2 separate regions of the Homo sapiens genome follow, and region 2 is linked to region 1. Evidence: fine-mapped expression QTL. Tissue or cell type: testis. Region 1 holds a variant in brackets; the other region holds the start of a gene. All regions are shown on one strand. Distances are from middle to middle.

What was found. PIP is the estimated chance that this variant, and not a neighbour inherited with it, causes the effect.
Region 2: it holds the start of CNTN4, and the variant in region 1 is fine-mapped to the expression of CNTN4 in testis (GTEx, PIP above 0.99).

Annotation. Positions count from the first base shown.
Region 1 is chr3:3,047,248-3,055,355 of GRCh38, reverse strand. CNTN4 (contactin 4) reads right to left here. Exons shown (of 25, transcript NM_175607.3): 24 at 1,381-1,549. All of the region lies in intron 1 of CNTN4-AS1 (CNTN4 antisense RNA 1), which reads left to right. Among named protein-coding and RNA genes, the nearest start is that of CNTN4-AS1, 9.8 kb to the left of the region's middle. The variant G/A (reference allele first, on the strand shown) is at 3,763.
Region 2 is chr3:2,094,568-2,102,675 of GRCh38, reverse strand. CNTN4 (contactin 4) reads right to left here and starts at 3,810. Exons shown (of 25, transcript NM_175607.3): 1 at 3,698-3,810; 2 at 2,037-2,118. It overlaps LOC124909338 (a long non-coding RNA gene), which reads left to right and starts at 4,421. Exons shown (of 2, transcript XR_007095785.1): 1 at 4,421-4,529; 2 at 4,718-5,095. RefSeq lists an enhancer at 7,247-7,854.

The DNA.
Region 1 (8,108 bases):
AAACCAGGAATCATCAGTCTATCTAAAAATGTCAATCCCTGCAATGATAAGAAAGTATGAAGTATAAAGTCAGATTTTTAATGAAGCGAGATAAGCCCCAATCTTGTATTTTTGTGGCCTGGAGATTTTACTTCCACATCTCACCAAAAATCTAGCTCCCTTTCGATAGAAGTTAGAGGCTTTGTTTGATAAAGTATAATCCAATTGTCCCCCTTTTAAGACAAAAATGCCTTTTGTGTTTGTATGCAAAAAAGATGCAGTAAATATAAACTCCATCCAGAAACACTGGCATATCACCCCTTAGCAGAGGGATGTCACATGGCTAAAAGTCAGGATGGTGGTGAGGATTTTGTCCATAATTTAAAATATCATCTTTTTACCAATGTCTTGAAAATTTATACCTCCAGCCTTCACTGCTCCCCTAATCTCCAGACTGAAATCTGAAAGCCTGTGAAAGTCTACACTTAGATATCTAACCACAGTCTTTTTTTTATTGCTGTAAAATACACATAACAAAATTAGCATTTTAACTCATTTAAAATGTACAAATCAGTGGTACTAAGTATACTCCAGTGTTGTGCAACCAGCACCACTCTCAAGCTCCATAACTTTTGTGTCACCCCAAATGAAGACCCAGTGCCTAAACCCCCATTCCCCACTGACCAGCCACTGCCAATCACTAGCCTCACTTCTGTCTCCACGGATTTGGCTATTTTGTTTTTTTTCTTTAAATAAATGAGATCACACACAACAACAAAAAAATCATGCTCTTAAGATACTTACAAACATGGTATTTGTAAAAACAGAATTGAATGTATTTGCTCAAAAAGAATATGCTATTCTCCCATGCTATTCAACAACATTTGAAAGTGAAGATAATCTTGACTATAGAGAGACATACACATTGATGCACATGTTGCATATACCCATTGAAAATAAGTAGTAAATTCCAAATATTTCCAAGATACTGAACTGCATACACTGTTTCACTGGAGAAAAACTGCTACGGCATACTTAACAATGCTTGTCCTTGTTCCTTCTGACTGAGTCAATGCTTTTCACTTTCTAAACTGTAATTCTGGGGCTACAATAGATGCAATGCAAACTACACAGGTTGACACGGAAAAACCTTAGTGACTAATTCGGGTCTGCTTTAATCTGATTTTTGATTAGCAACTGAGTAGATCAGTCAACACGGGCAAACTGATTTTTGCATGAAACTGCCTATGGCCAGCAAACATCTGGAGAAGGGGGGTAGTGTTCTCCATTTCTATTTTAAGTCTGCTTTTGCAGGCTGAATGTCTTTCAAGCCCTGACTCATCTGGAAGGCTGATAAGATAAGACAGGCAGGAGAAAAGGGAGAAAAAAAGGCATTCTCACTTGATATCTTTGGAATTCGAATTTGTTCACTGCTGCTGCCATCTCCTCCGTCGCTGAATGGCTTAATTTCTATTATATAATCTTCATCGAAAGGCAAAGAAAGCTCCACCGATGTTTTATTTGTTTCAATGACAGATGTGCTGCTTTGTCTGTTCCATCTGTACAAGACCTGCCAATACAGAAAGAACAGGTGTCACCTGCCGTCTTCACAAAGGTCCCAAATATGGAGCATTCATTTGTTTTCACCTCTGGGCACGAGCAAAATGCAGGGATGTAGAGGTTGTCTGGCTGCCCACTTGCATTTGGAAGGCTCATTTGCAGTGAGGGCCATGACTGCAGCTACCATTTTATTCCAAGGAAAGAGCTGAAAGGATATTATATCAGGGGCATCAGCAACGTGATTCTACCTACTGCCTAGCCTCTCGGAGGCTCAGTTGACACTCTTGGGAAAGTGGAAAATATGAGTAGCTCCTTAAGGATGTACAGTGCTCAGTTACACATCGGTGCTTTGGCATCAGAATAAACTTGGCCACTGTGGGATCACAGGCCACTTCACCTTTCAGAGCCTCACTTCAGTCATCTGTAAAAGGGGGACAATAATACCCAGTCTTCTGGAGTGTGTTTTCAAGATTGCACAAGGAGGCTGGGTGCAGTGGCCCATGCCTATAGTGTCAGCACTTTGGGAGGCCAAGGTGGGTGACTCACTTGAGGCCAGGAGTTTGAGACCAGCCTGACCAACATGGCGAAACCCTGTCTCTACAAAAAATACAAAAATTAGCCAGACATGATGGCACACACCTGTAATCCCAGCTACTCCAGAGGCTGAGGCAGGAGAATTGCTTGCACCCGGGAGGCAGACGTTGCAGTGAGCCGAGATCAAGCCACTGCACTCCAGCCTGGGTGACAGAGCAAGACTGTCTCAAAAATATAAAAATACAAAAGATTGCACAAGGTTTGAATCTGGTGATGGCCTAGCTTAGAGGAAGCATGTAAGAAATAGTATCTCTGAAGGCTTAAAGATAATCAGAGAACATACATGGCAAAGGTTAGAGCACAAGCCAGGCACAATAAGTTATGATCACGACTCTTAGAGACAGGACATTTCAGCACAGGGAGAAGATATCGGAAAGGCAAGAGTAGTAACCTCCCATTCCTTTCCTCTGGAACCCCACTTTATGGGGCTAGGTAGCCAAGAGGCAACCATTGTCACCCTGGACATATCTGCAGCTTGCAACAGTCCTGTTTTCATCTTGGGCCCCCCATGGGTTCTGAGTTTGGAGGTGGATTCATTTGATGAGGTGGCCAACTAGCCTCCTAAAAACACATTCACTTACCTGGGATTGCCTGCTGTGATTGGATTTACTCCAATCAGGAACAAAATATACAGGTCTGGGAAAGTGTGCCTTTACCTATAGAACCACTAAAGCTCATCCTCTGTAGTTTCCCCTGACAAAAAGATAGGGTTGGATGAGGTCAGTGGTTTTTGGTCCTGGCTGCATGTTAGAACCATTGGGGTGCTTGTAAAATACTTATGCTGTAGCTCAGTGGTTTTCAACAGGGTGGGAGGGGCAGGGGAGCAATTTTGCCTCACAGGGAGGTATCTGGCAATGTCTGCAGACATGTTTGTCAAAACATGTCCTCCTGTTGTAGTGGATAGAGAGACCAGGGATGCTGCTGAACAGTCTACAATGCACAGAGCAGCCCCGCAACAAAGAACTCTCTAGCTCAAAGTGTTGACTGTGAGGAGGTCAGTAACCCCGCTCCAGTTCCACTCTAGCCTGCCTAAGACTGCACAGAGGTGGGATCCATGCTGTAGTTGTTTTCTAAAAGATCATCAGGAGATGTTAATATGGGATAGGCATCATGATTAGATGAATTAGACGCGTAGTTCTCAAATTCAAGCGTGAACAGAATCACCTGGAGAACTTGTTAGAACACAAATTGCTGGGCCCCATTCCTGGAGTTTGTGATTAGTTCTGGGATGGGACCTGAAAATCTGCATTTCTGACAAGTTCCCAGCTAATGCCAGTGCTGATGGTCCAGGGATCATGCGTTGAGAAGCACGAGATTAGCTCATCCTTCCCTAAGATCCCTTATAAATTCTGATCTGCTGAGGCTACAGACATAAGGTCACTCTTGTGTCTCAAGACAAAACCAGACACAAGTGAAATTCATAAAATTCCTTTAGAATGGTTTAGAACCCATCTGTTCCCTGGCATTTCATCACCTTAATTTATATCTCTCTAACACAAGGTGGAAAACACAATTTCCTTAAGGTAGAAAGATTCATAAGTGTCCCCTTCTTCTCCGCAGCATCAGTTGTATCAGACCCAGCATCCCCTTGCTGATGATTAGGCACAGATAAATCCTCAGGCACATTCA[G/A]GAGTGTCAAAGCTTCTCATCACGGCCCTCCAGGAGAATGGGCTGATGGGATGCAAGGTCACATCTGGCTTTGAGGAATAAATTGCTGCTTTGATTTACCTCTGGTCCTTGCAAGAGCTCAGAGGATTCAACTTGTTTCAAATATAAATCCAAAAGAAACACTTCCAGGAAAAAGCAGCACTTTTATCAGCACTGCTTATCAGTCTTGCAGTATTATGGACTGCAGCAGAACCCAAATAAAGTCCTGTAAAGCCTTTATTTACACCAAACACTTGCTTGAGCTGATTGAAGGCTGTGCTTGCATTTGATATAATCTAGGGTGGAAGACAAGGGGAAAGAATGGATTTGTGGGAATAATGATAATAGCAAATATTATAGACTACTTCCACTATTTAATGTCTGAACACTGTGTGTTCTAAATCAGGGGTGTCCAATCTTTTGGCTTCCCTGGACCACACTGGAAGAAGAAAAATTGTCTTGGGCCACACATAAAATACACTAACACTAATGATAGCTGATGAACTTTTAAAAAATTGCAAAAAACATCTTACGATGTTTTAAGAAAGTTTATGAATTTGTGTTGGGCCACATTCAAAGCCATCTTGGGCCACATGTAGCCTGTGGGCTGTGGGCTGTACAAGCTTGTTCTAAATGCTTATGTGGATAACCTCTTAAGGAAGGCAATGTTATTATTCTGATTTCAAAGATGAGAACTTGAGATGTGGAGATGTGAAGCAATTGCCCGGTCTCATGACTGGTAAGTGGCGGATCCTGCATTCAAACCTAGGCAGTCTGGCTCCAGAGCCTGGATTTTTTTTTTTTTTTTTTTTGAGACGGAGTTTCACTCTTATTGCCCAGGCTAGAGTGCGATGGTGTGACCTCAGCTCACTACAACCTCCGCCTCCCGGGTTCAAGCAATTCTTCTGCCTCAGCCTCCCAAGTAGCTAACATTACAGGCATGCGCCACCATGCCCTGCTGATTTTATATTTTTAGCAGAGACGGGGTTTCACCATGTTGGTCAGGCTGGTCTCAAACTCCTGACCTCAGGTGATCCACCCACCTCGGCCTCCCAAAGTGCTGGGATTACAGGTGTGAGCCACCGTGCCCGGCCTCAGAACCTGGATTTTTAACGAAGACTACCTTGGCTACCACCTGTAGGGCTCTGGGCAAATTGCTTTCCCTCTCTGGCATCTGTCTTTGGGAACACAAACCAAGGGAGTTAGACAGCAAAAAACTAGTGGCCCATGGGTCATAACCAGCCTGCATATATTATTTGTTTGGCTGTCATAGTGTTATTTTTTTTGAGTTAGACATGAACATTTAAAAACCGAGAAATTAGACATTAAAAATTTGTGGGTTCTACTGAAAAACTGGAAGATATGGCCACACTGGTTGCTATGCTTTGGATGCTTGTCCTCTCCAAAACTCATGTTGAAATTCGCCATTTTAACTGTATTAACAGGTGAACCTTGAAGAGATAATTAGGCCATGAGGTGATTAGGCTCACCCTCACAGATGGAATTAGCACTGTTGTAAAAGGGCGAGTCAGCTCTCTATCCCTCTCCCTCCCAGCACTGGGTGTCAATAAACTTCTGTTCATATTAATTGCCCAGTCTCAGGTATTCTGTTCCTGAGTAAGACTCTACAAAAGTGCGATCCAGAATAAAATAGACTAAGCCAGTGATCTATATTCCTGTCTGCCAACAACTGGTTGGAGTTGAGAAGTCTCATTCTGAACAATCACAAACTCTGCAGTTGGTGATAGTCCCAACACTTCCAATGTTGCTACATTGTCACATGCCTACCTCTGGACCTTTGCACTTCCTTTTTTGCAGTACTTGGGACATTCCCAGAGAGGTGCCAAGGCCCAACTGAAATCTCACCACTTAAAAGTGGCTTTCCTTGGCCTTTCTATAAAATAATACATCTCTCCTGTCCACTCCATGGCTTTCTCTATTCCCCTCACTCTAGCCTCTTTTTCTCTGCAGTACTTTGTTATCACTTATTCTATTTATTTATGGCTGGTAGGCAGAAGCACCAAGTGGCTAAATGTAGAACTCAGGATCCATACTGCTGTATTCGGATCCCAGGTCTTCAACATACCAGCTGTGTGAAAGGCAAGTGACTAAACTCTATGCCACAGCTCTTCATCCGTAAAACTAGCAATAATAACTGTACCTATCTTCATGGTTATTATACAGTTAAGATGAGGCCAGGCATGGTGGCTCATGCCTGTAATCCCAGCACTTTGGGAGGCTGAGGCAGGCGGATCACCTGAGGTCAGGAGTTTAAGACCAGCCTGGCCAACATGGTGAAACTCCATCTCTACTAAAAATACAAAAATCAGCCAGTCGTGGTGGTGGGCGCCTGTAGTCTCAGCTACTTGGGAGGCTGAGGCAGGAGAACTGCTTGAACCCTGGAGGCGGAGGTTGCAGTGAGCCAAGATTGTACCACTACACTCCACCTTGCGTGACAGAGGGAGACTCTGTCTCAAAATACAACAAAATAAAATATAAAGTTAAGATGAATTGGAACAGTGCTTAGTAGACGTATTAGTAGTAGTTTCTGAATGGACTGAACAGAACTCATTTATGTTATCTGCCTGGCCCTGCAGGTAGTTTAATTTGTGATACTAAAACCAGATGCTCTCCTTTTAGCTCTAATGCCATAAAGTAGCTTAAGGATTTGTGTTGACAAAATATTTGGGGCCTTAAACTTTCTAAAGTCAGCTTCTTGTTGAGACTGTCTACCTAAGCTGAGATCTAAAGAATTCAGACAACTTAGTGAAGAAGGGAAAATAAACCCACACCCCAACATGTTCAGTATTTGGGAGGAAAACTTAATTTTGGAAAGGGTCAGTCTGAGATAAACAATAGCCATATTTAATGGGTCAAATTCTCTAGCAAAGGTCAACTCTTCCGTTGCAATCAGATCCGCTTTTTATTCAGCCTCTAATCTCACCCTAAAAGTGACACTAGGGAGAGTTTCCTGAGCTATCATGGGACGTGAGATATCACGGGAGGTACCACACATACACACACACAAATACACACACACACACACACACACACACACAGAGAGAGAGAGAGAAAGAGAGAGAGTTATTCATTGGTACCTTGGTAATTCAGGGAACTGGCTTCAGGACCTCCCTAAAATACCAAAATCTGTGGATACTCAAGTCCTGGATATACAATGGTATAGAATTTGTGTATAACCTAAGCATATCTTTCCGTATACTTTAAATCAACTTTAGATTACTCATAATACCTAATATAATGTAAATGGTATGTAAATAGTTGTTATACTGTATTGTTTTTAAAATCTGTGTCATTTTCATTGTATTTTTTTGTGTGTTTTTTTTCCTGAATATTTTTGATCCACATTTGAGAGTATGGAACCTGTGGATACCTGTAGCTTTAAATTATGTATCTCTAAACATTCACATGTATATGTAGCAATTCAAAATGTATAGCCAGTTACAGTGACCTTCCTTGGGGTGTAGTTGAGGAGGTGTAGGGTGTCTGGCTCTTCCAGTACCACTCCTAAAAAGAAGGGGGAGTGACTGAGCTGGAAATTAAGAAGAACTCAGAAAGTGTCCTTTCCTACCATCTGGTCTAACCCTGTTACCCACTCTCAAGGGTGGTGATATCCCCTTGATCATTTTTTATTGCATCTATTTGATTCTTCTCTCTTTTCTTCTTTATTAGTCTTGCTAGCAGTCTATCAATTTTGTTGATCTTTTCAAAAAACCAGCTCCTGGATTCACTGATTTTTTGAATGGTTTTTTGTGTCTCTATCTCCTTCAGTTCTGCTCTGATCTTAGTTATTTCTTGCCTTCTGCTAGCTTTTGAATGTGTTTGCTCTTGCTTCTCTAGTTCTTTTAATTGTGATGTTAGGGTGTCAATTTTAGATCTTTCCTGCTTTCTCTTGTGGGCATTTAGTGCTATAAATTTCCCTCTACACACTGCTTTGAATGTGTCCCAGAGATTCTGGTATGTTGTGTCTTTGTTCTCGTTGGTTTCAAAGAACATCTTTATTTCTGCCTTCATTTCGTTATGTACCCAGTAGTCATTCAGGAGCGGGTTGTTCAGTTGCCATGTAGTTGAGCGGTTTTGAGTGAGTTTCTTAATCCTGAGTTCTAGTTTGATCGCACTGTGGTCTGAGAGACAGTTTGTTGTAATTTCTATTCTTTTACATTTGCTGAGGAGTGCTTTACTTCCACCTATGAGGTCAATTATGGAATAAGTGCGATGTGGTGCTGAGAAGAATGTATATTCTGTTGATTTGGGGTGGAGAGTTCTGTAGATGTCTATTAGGTCTGCTTGGTGCAGAGCTGAGTTCAATT
Region 2 (8,108 bases), 950 kb after region 1:
CCTCCCAAGTCTTCCTCTTTCCAATGGCTTGATGCAAGTAAGCACAGTGACCCTGCTGAAGACGGCAAGGGCACAGAACAGATGAAGGCTGGGTCTCTGAATCACACTTTGAAGGAGTACTGCCATGATCACCCATTCTGGGACTTCACACAACCGAGAAATAAATATATTTCACATCTGAGGCAGTATCCCTTTTGGATCTGTTATATCTGCTAAAGAGCCAATCTAAAAGAGCCAAGCTCTTGACCCATGTTGACTCATGCTCTCATGTTTAATCCCTATCGTGATGCCGTGAAATAGATGTTATCCCAATTTTATACCTAAAGAAACTAAGGCTCACAGAAATTAAGGAACTACATTGCCCAGGACTGTAAATGTAATAAATGATGGTGCCAGACTTAGATTCAGGTTAATCTGCTTCAAGGTTTATGAACTTTCCAGCCTCCACACAACACTGCAATGTGGAAAGTGTCCTTCCAATCCTCCCTCATTTACTCCTTGGATTCTTCACTTCCTGACCATTGGTACTTAGTCTTTAAACTAAAACTCCATTTTTTAAAATTCACCTGTATGTCTACTTTGGGAGATCTAAGATGACATCTCCAAAACACATTCATCCTTTACACCTCATTCTATCCACATATGAGTCCATGAGAGGAAAACAAGTGTGCTTAATCTATTTGTTACAGAAGATATAGAAGTGTAGCAGTTTTACAACTGGCTAGAGTATCAGAGATGATGAACAGCAGAGCAGAGATAAGGAGAGAAAGATTTTAAAAATATCAAACCAGCAGTGATCTTTAAAGTGTGCTACACACCCCAGGGGCTGTACAAAATGATCCACCGGGATACATAACAGCAACATGAGACCTTCTATTTCATAATTTTTGCTTTATTCATCTTTTTTGTTTCTTTGTGTGTTTTATAAGTAGTGTATCATATAACAGCATGTCTTCAGTTTATAAATAAATTTTATTGATATGTTGTCAGATTTCTTCTGATAGTAAATAATAATAATAATGAAGATCAATAAATCTAGGCAGTAAATCCTGCCTCCTTGCCTCCTTCACTAGGCTTAAAACATAGCATTACAGGGAAAAATGAACAAAAAGGAACAAAAAAAATCAGTGTGTAGAGACTTCCCCCTGCCTATCATATGAAATAGACTTATTCAACTAAAATAATATAAAAGCAAGTTTTTACAAAATATTAATTTTTAAGATAAGAGAGATTGAAGCTAATGCATATTATGTCTGTCCTCAAATATAACAAAGAAGAAACAACAAGTTAAAATCATGATCAGACAAACTTGTAGAAAAGTCAGTACCATGCATGGGAATTTTCTGCTGAGCAGCTTTATTTTTTTAAGACCTAAATTGAAGGAACGGATGCCCTGTATACATTTCAGAAGAAAAACTGCAGCCAAAAGATTTAGTGCTTAGATCGGAAAAGAAATCAGAAGACCTACTTTTGAACAAAAAGGAGAGAGAAGTAGGTAAAATAAGTGAATGATAAAAAATCCAACATCATTTGAAAGGTTTGTTCTCTAATCACTCTTAATTACCTGCCAATATGAAATGACCATGGAAAAAGGTACTGCATTGACTCCCAATTGACTTGAAAAGTTTTACAACTCAAAGAAACTGAAAAGTGTTGTTTAAAAAACTGCAAATAGGAAAATCTACCTCTGTTGAAACTTACATGTGGCTCTGACATGCACCCTTATCCAAGTCACTTCTCTTAGACTCTTAGTCTTTAATTGAAAAGGTCAGTTTTTCCATCCTTGCCAGCTACCTCCCAGGGTTCAGATGGAAAAATAATGACGTTTATCAGCATCATCTCTCCTCAACAAGACAGAGCAGTTGAAACCAGCTTCAACAAACAAATCAATAGCTATTTTATAAGGTAGCAAAAATAATATTCTCATGAAACTTGTTTTTGATCCTTAGCAATCTTACCTACTCCTGCGACCCACTGCAGATATTCCCACAAAATCTTTAAAGAAATCAAGATAAAAATAGCAAGAATAAACTTACGGGTAACGTGAATTTTCTCATGAATGCCACCCAAATCACCTCCAGGTGCCTGTCTTCATGACACACTGTTCTTTTTCACCCACTTGGGTAGAGAGAGAGAAAGAGAGAACAAACTTGCTATTAGGCAGACTTGGGAACGCTATTGTATGGACCTGCTCATAGGCAACCTATACAGTCTTTACGCTCCTACCCCACTCTCTAAAGGACATAAACCAGAAATCTCAAAAAACAAAAAAATACAAGCGCGTTCCAAATTATCTTGTGTGGGTATCCAAACGACTCAGTTATGTGGAGTTACTCCTTGAACTATCCAGCTCCCACTACAGAAAATTGAAAGAGCTTCCCATGCAGTTAAATGCCACTGTTATTCTGACAAACATGTGCCCGCCCCTATGTTGATTCCAGCAGGAAAACTAGAAAAAGTTCCACGACATTCCTTTCAGGAACTCCTCTTACAAATAAACCTCCAACACACCTCAAGATCCGGCCCACTCTCCTCCACGCAGACCACACACCCAGGGTGCTCAGTCACACTGACTCGCCCTACACAACCTCCGCCAGCTTCTTCGCACCGAATCTGCAGACCCTGGCCAGCAAGCAACCGCCTGATCTTCCCGACGCGCGAAGCCGCCTCCTCGCAGGAGCTTCGCTGCGAAATGTTTCCATGCAGCCGACTCTCTGGCTGGTTCAGAGGGATTCAGGAGCCCACGTCCTCCTACCCTCACCTCCACACCCTTCATAAATAGTAAAACATATACACGAAGCACAAGAGAGAAAATGCACGAAGATTTTGAGCCCCGCGTTCCAGAAGGAGAGTGAGTGGATTGGGGTCTGTGGGGCGCCCGGCGCACAGTTCGCCGCCGTCTGGGCCCGGGGAGGGGACGGGGCGGTTGTCTTGCCTCTCGAAAGAAACTGGAAACCCCCCAGAAGTTGCTGGAAACGAATGCCACCCAACAGGCTCCCGCGGCAGAGACTGGGGAAGCCAGGTACCTTCCCTAAGAGCAGGCACCTGGCCTGTCGCTCGCCGCCGCAGCCTCAGCGCTCAGCAGCCAGCCCGGCACCCAGCGGGCGCCACAGACATCAGCCTCCGTCTCCACGCGGCTCCTTCCACCACGGCTACGGGCTCCTGTTCCTTTAGTCCCAGGTCCCTCCACTCCCCAGGTTCGCGTCCCTCTGCTGCGGGCTGTGACTGGGCTGTCAGAAGAAAAGCCCCGCCGGGAACCCGGCGCCAGAGGCCAGGGCGCACGGAGAGGGGGCAGTAGCCCGAACCAGTCGGAGGAGCTGACTTGAAGGCTTCCCGCAGCATTCCGGGCTCTCGGTTCCTTGTTTTGTGGCTGCCTCGCAGCGCAACAAACTTATTTTCCGGCTGAGAAGGAGAAGAAGGGTCGCTGTGGGGTGACGGTGGCGTCGTCGGGGCCCTGAGTCCTCCGCGCTCAGGCGTTCAGCTCCCGCTCCCCGACCCTGCAGGGCTTCCGGGCTCTGAGCTGGACGGCCCCGCAGACGCTGCCCGGCCCCGCGGGAGTCAGAGCCCCGGGAAGCGCCCCTGTCCTTCGGGCAACCCGCGCGGACCCTGCCCTTTCCCCCCCACACCCGCGACCGCGTCCCCGGGGCATCGCGCGCCCACGCAGGAGCCGGACCCGCACAGCTGCCGCCTCACTTACCTCAGCACCGGGGCGCCGGGCTGGCGAGAGCCTCGGGTGCGGCGCCGGCACAGTCCGAGGGGCCCGGGGCGGCGGCGAAAGCTCCCTACTTGCAGCCAATCCTGGCGTCGAACCCCGGGCTCCGTCTGGCGCGGCGCTGCCCTCCCTCCCGGCGCTCGCGGCGGCTGGAAAAACCTGGCGCGCCGGAGTTCGGGCTGCCGGCTCCTTAGCCGCGGGGCGGGGGAGACGCTCGGGGAAGGGGAGAGGCGCGGGCGGGTGGGAACGGGCGGGAGACGAGCGGGGACGGGGAGACGCGCCGGAGGCCCGGAGCCCGCGCATGCTCAGTGCGCGGCCGGAGGAGGCGAGCGCTGGGGACGCAGCACCTGCCCCGCGCGGCCGAGAGGCGGCAGCCCCAGGTCCCCAGCGCGCGAAATTAGTAAAGGGCGCCTGGCCCGATTCTCAGGCAAGAGGAGATTATCAGCCGGATTCCCGTGCGGGGACGTAGGGGTTGCGTTGTTCAGCGGCCAGGGATGCGCCGAGGCGATGTCTCCTCCCTTTACAACCCGAGTATCGGGGCACGAGGAGGCGCGACCTTCCTGGGTACCCAAACCTCTGGCCTCCGGGAGACGCGGAATTCGGGGGATCGTTAAGGCGCCCTGGCCAGGGAAACAGATGCTTCTGCGTCTGGGCTGAAAATTGCTGAACCGGGGAATGTGGGTGGGCGGGTGGCATTGAACTTAGGCCAGAAGAGGGGGCTTTGGTAGGTTTTTACCTGCCTGTCCTTAGGCGGAGGACACTGGCTGGACAGGCTGCGTTACACACCTGAAGTCTCATCCACGCAAAGTGCTTTCAGGTTGGAATGTGGGGCGGGGGCGGGGGGAGGTCAGAGGGAACAGTTGCTGTAAATTAGGTACAAGGATCAATTTGTGGTGTGTTGTGCGCGGGGGTGGGGCATGTCGAAAGCCTTGTTATTCGAAAGAATGTGCTTTGAACGACGTTGCCACGGTCATTCTACATTATGAATCTACTGTTTCCTTGCAGAAGTGGCTCCCTTCGCCGCAACTCCACACCTCGGGGTAACCGTAGAGATTGGCAGCAATGCCCCAGCCCCTCACCAGCACTGTGCAAAGTGACTTTGACAGGCAGAGAAAAGCCAACCCAGTCGAATTCGTCTGGAAAGCATTCCAGCAACCCAGAGAGGAGCCTCTGTTTCTCTCTCTGGGAAAAAGCCCCAAGGGTTTTGCTGAACCCAGGTCTTCCTGCTCATCTCTCAGCAGTTCAGAGCTACATAAACAACTTCTGACCATTTACGCAATCATGTAAACCTACCCTGACATCTCCACTATGTGGAAAAGATGTTAACTGGAAAACTATTTTTAAACTACTGCAGTAAGCAAATAAACATCCAACTCCAACATATATATGCAGCAGCCTTATTAGTTCATTCAGTGTTGGTTTGGTTTGTTTGTTTTGTCTTCTGCTTTTTAGAATTAATTATTATCTTTATAATTCCTGTTCGAGAAGTGGGCAAAACCAGGCTAGTGATAGGTATTGTTGTGGTCAAATTTTTCATCACTTGAAATTCCATGACTTTCATGATTGCTGAGATTAATGCTAAATAAAGAAGTTACCCCCCCGCCCCCACCCCACCCCAACCTCCCCACCAAAGTTTCCTGATTACTTAAACTTGGAGAGAAATTTTCAGGCTTTTTCCTCCCTCCTTGCCTGGTATGTGTCTGTAATAGAGGTACTTTTGCAAAACTGGAATGTTGGTGATGCAGGTGTTTTCCATGGTAAACAGCCACTGAGGATCAATGGTTCCCAGGTTCCCACTCACTTTGAAGGCTTTTGTGCTTCTGCCGGAACTGTGACTTTTACTACCTGTACTATGTATGATTTTTTTTTACATTGATTATTTCTCTGCAACTAGTCAATTAAAAGTACATATATATAACTTTTAGTAAGACTGTTTATCAAAATATGCTTCACCAGAAGTTCTCCAGAAAATATTCCTGTGTAGTCATGCATACTCCTAACACATTAAAGGGAAATGTCGTGTTTTAGACTGGACACAGAATTTCAGAAAAGAACAAAGAATAAAATATGCTGTCACATTCTCCCACTGGGACTATACATTGAAGCAATTTTCAAAGTTTTATGACAATTTCAGGCAAAGTCCCTTAACTGTGTTTCTAAATTTCAAATGTACATATTTTGTTTCCATTCTCCCCTTTGGCCCTTATTCTGTGCCTGCTATATGCTAGGCATTGTCTTCTAGTAGATTCTGGGAAACAAACTAAACATGACCAAGACTTGCTCCACAGTTCACCATGTAGTTAGGAAAACAGACATTGTGTATCTGGAGAGACAGATTTGGGTCGTGTTGAGGGGATATCAGTTAAACGTTAAGTTAGGAGGAGGCATTTTTTCTTTTCACCAACACACCCCCACACTGATCCAGTGCTAAGCTTGTTCAGTCCCTCCCCAACATTTTCTCTAGAACAGCAGCTAGTTTAAAATGCAGCCAATAATCCAGTCCCTTTTTTCCATCCTGCAGCAAAGAAGCGATGCTCAGCTGCCACCTCTGCCAAGATAGAAAGCCTCTTGCGGAAGCTCCCAGGATTGGGGAGTGTTCCTAATAGACTCAACCCCTGTCAGGGGACAGAAATGGTTTATTTTGATGACAACAGCCTCACACGTGTGTCTCTACATATCCAGGACCCCGACTGCGTGTCCGTTTCTTGATCAGGGGACCTGTGATTGGGATTCTCTGGAGGGGAATGTTCCAAACGAATCAATTAACGCCCCCAGCAGCAAGTTCAATACCACTGCACTGAGACCCAGCTCTGTATCATTGCATGAATGAATTACTGGTGCTCATGTAATTTGCAAATAATCATCATTCTAACACAGTGGAAAATTTCTCCTGCCCGTTTAGCCTGAGTAGCAGCTGAGCAGAGAGCTGCAATAACCCTCACAACACCCTCCAAAATAACTATTTACACATATGTGAAGTTTTACATCCAGGTCTTTTAATATGGGAGTATCTACATAGACACAAGGTCACCTCTTACACTCATTAAACCAATTGAATGAGGACTGATAACTCTTAAGGGAAATCAACGCTGAAACCGCTTTTGACTTTTTGGAGACATGAATGGAATACATCATCAGGTTTTACTCAGCATGCAACCGTTGTGCAAACTCCAGAAAGGGCATCTCTCTGTCCCACTCCCCCATTACCCCTGCCTTATTCCTTCTCTACACATCTGAAGATTTGATAAGTGGGGATTTACTGTAAGAGGAGGAAAGAGGAAAAGCATCACAGGAAAAGAAATACCTCTTTTCTGACCACATCTGATTTGATGCTATTTTCTCCTTACTCCTGGCATCCAGTGGGATTTTAAAAAACTCATATATGCCACCTTTCTTTGTTCTAAATGACTTGAATAAGGTCGTTCAATGGCAGGAGCGACTCAATCAGATAAAAATGTGCAGGTTTTATAATTACGGTTTTACTTGTTTAATGTATAGCTACCTGAATAGATCTTCAAGCATAAAGTAGCAATTATCCCATCCCTGATTTTAAAATATAAACTCAAGTTTGCTTTAATTAAGTAGATAAATCAGTATTTAAATAAACAATTGTATCAAGAAGAGCTTTGTGTTCAGTTTCGAACTGGAGTATAATAAAGTAGAACTCAGCTAAGGACTTTCAAACCAGCCTTGCAAAGCTTCCTTCTATGCAATTGTTTTAGGTGACTGATTGACACTTAAGCTTTAAACTAAGGACATTGGACTAATAATGGGCCCATACTGGGATAATGATAATTAGCACACAAAAGCACAGTTAATTGCCATGAAGGTTGGACACAGACTGACAGATAGAGTCAAAGTAAACTAGAAACCTGACACCCCAGCCAAGATTCCTTTATAAACGTGGCTGTGAGACACCCACTGAATTTAAACATAATAAGGTGGAATTAGGGACCAATCAACTGTTTTCTTAGCCACACGTTTTCCAGATTTTTTTGGATTCTTTATACAAAATCCAAAAATAATTGTTCCAAAGGTCTATTAGTTGCAAAAGTATTTATAGTTGATTTCTGATGTCCTCAGTAATTATGTTCTATAAAGTCACTGCAAACACTGGAGACAATAAAGGGTTATGTTCCTGACAGCCTCTGGTAACAAGATTTTCATCAACTGATAAAGATACCTTCTTTAATATATACTGTTGATTCATTAACATAGAACTCATGGCCTGCAGCACTGTAATTCTTGCCTGAACAAAACTTATCTAACACATGTATTTTCTCTGTGAGGCACATCACAGCTTTCTTTTGCTTAGGAATGCTAGACAGCACTCCAGCACTGTGCTCGAGGCCATTTTAAGCAGCAAAATCACCAACAGAAAAACCCAAAATTTGAG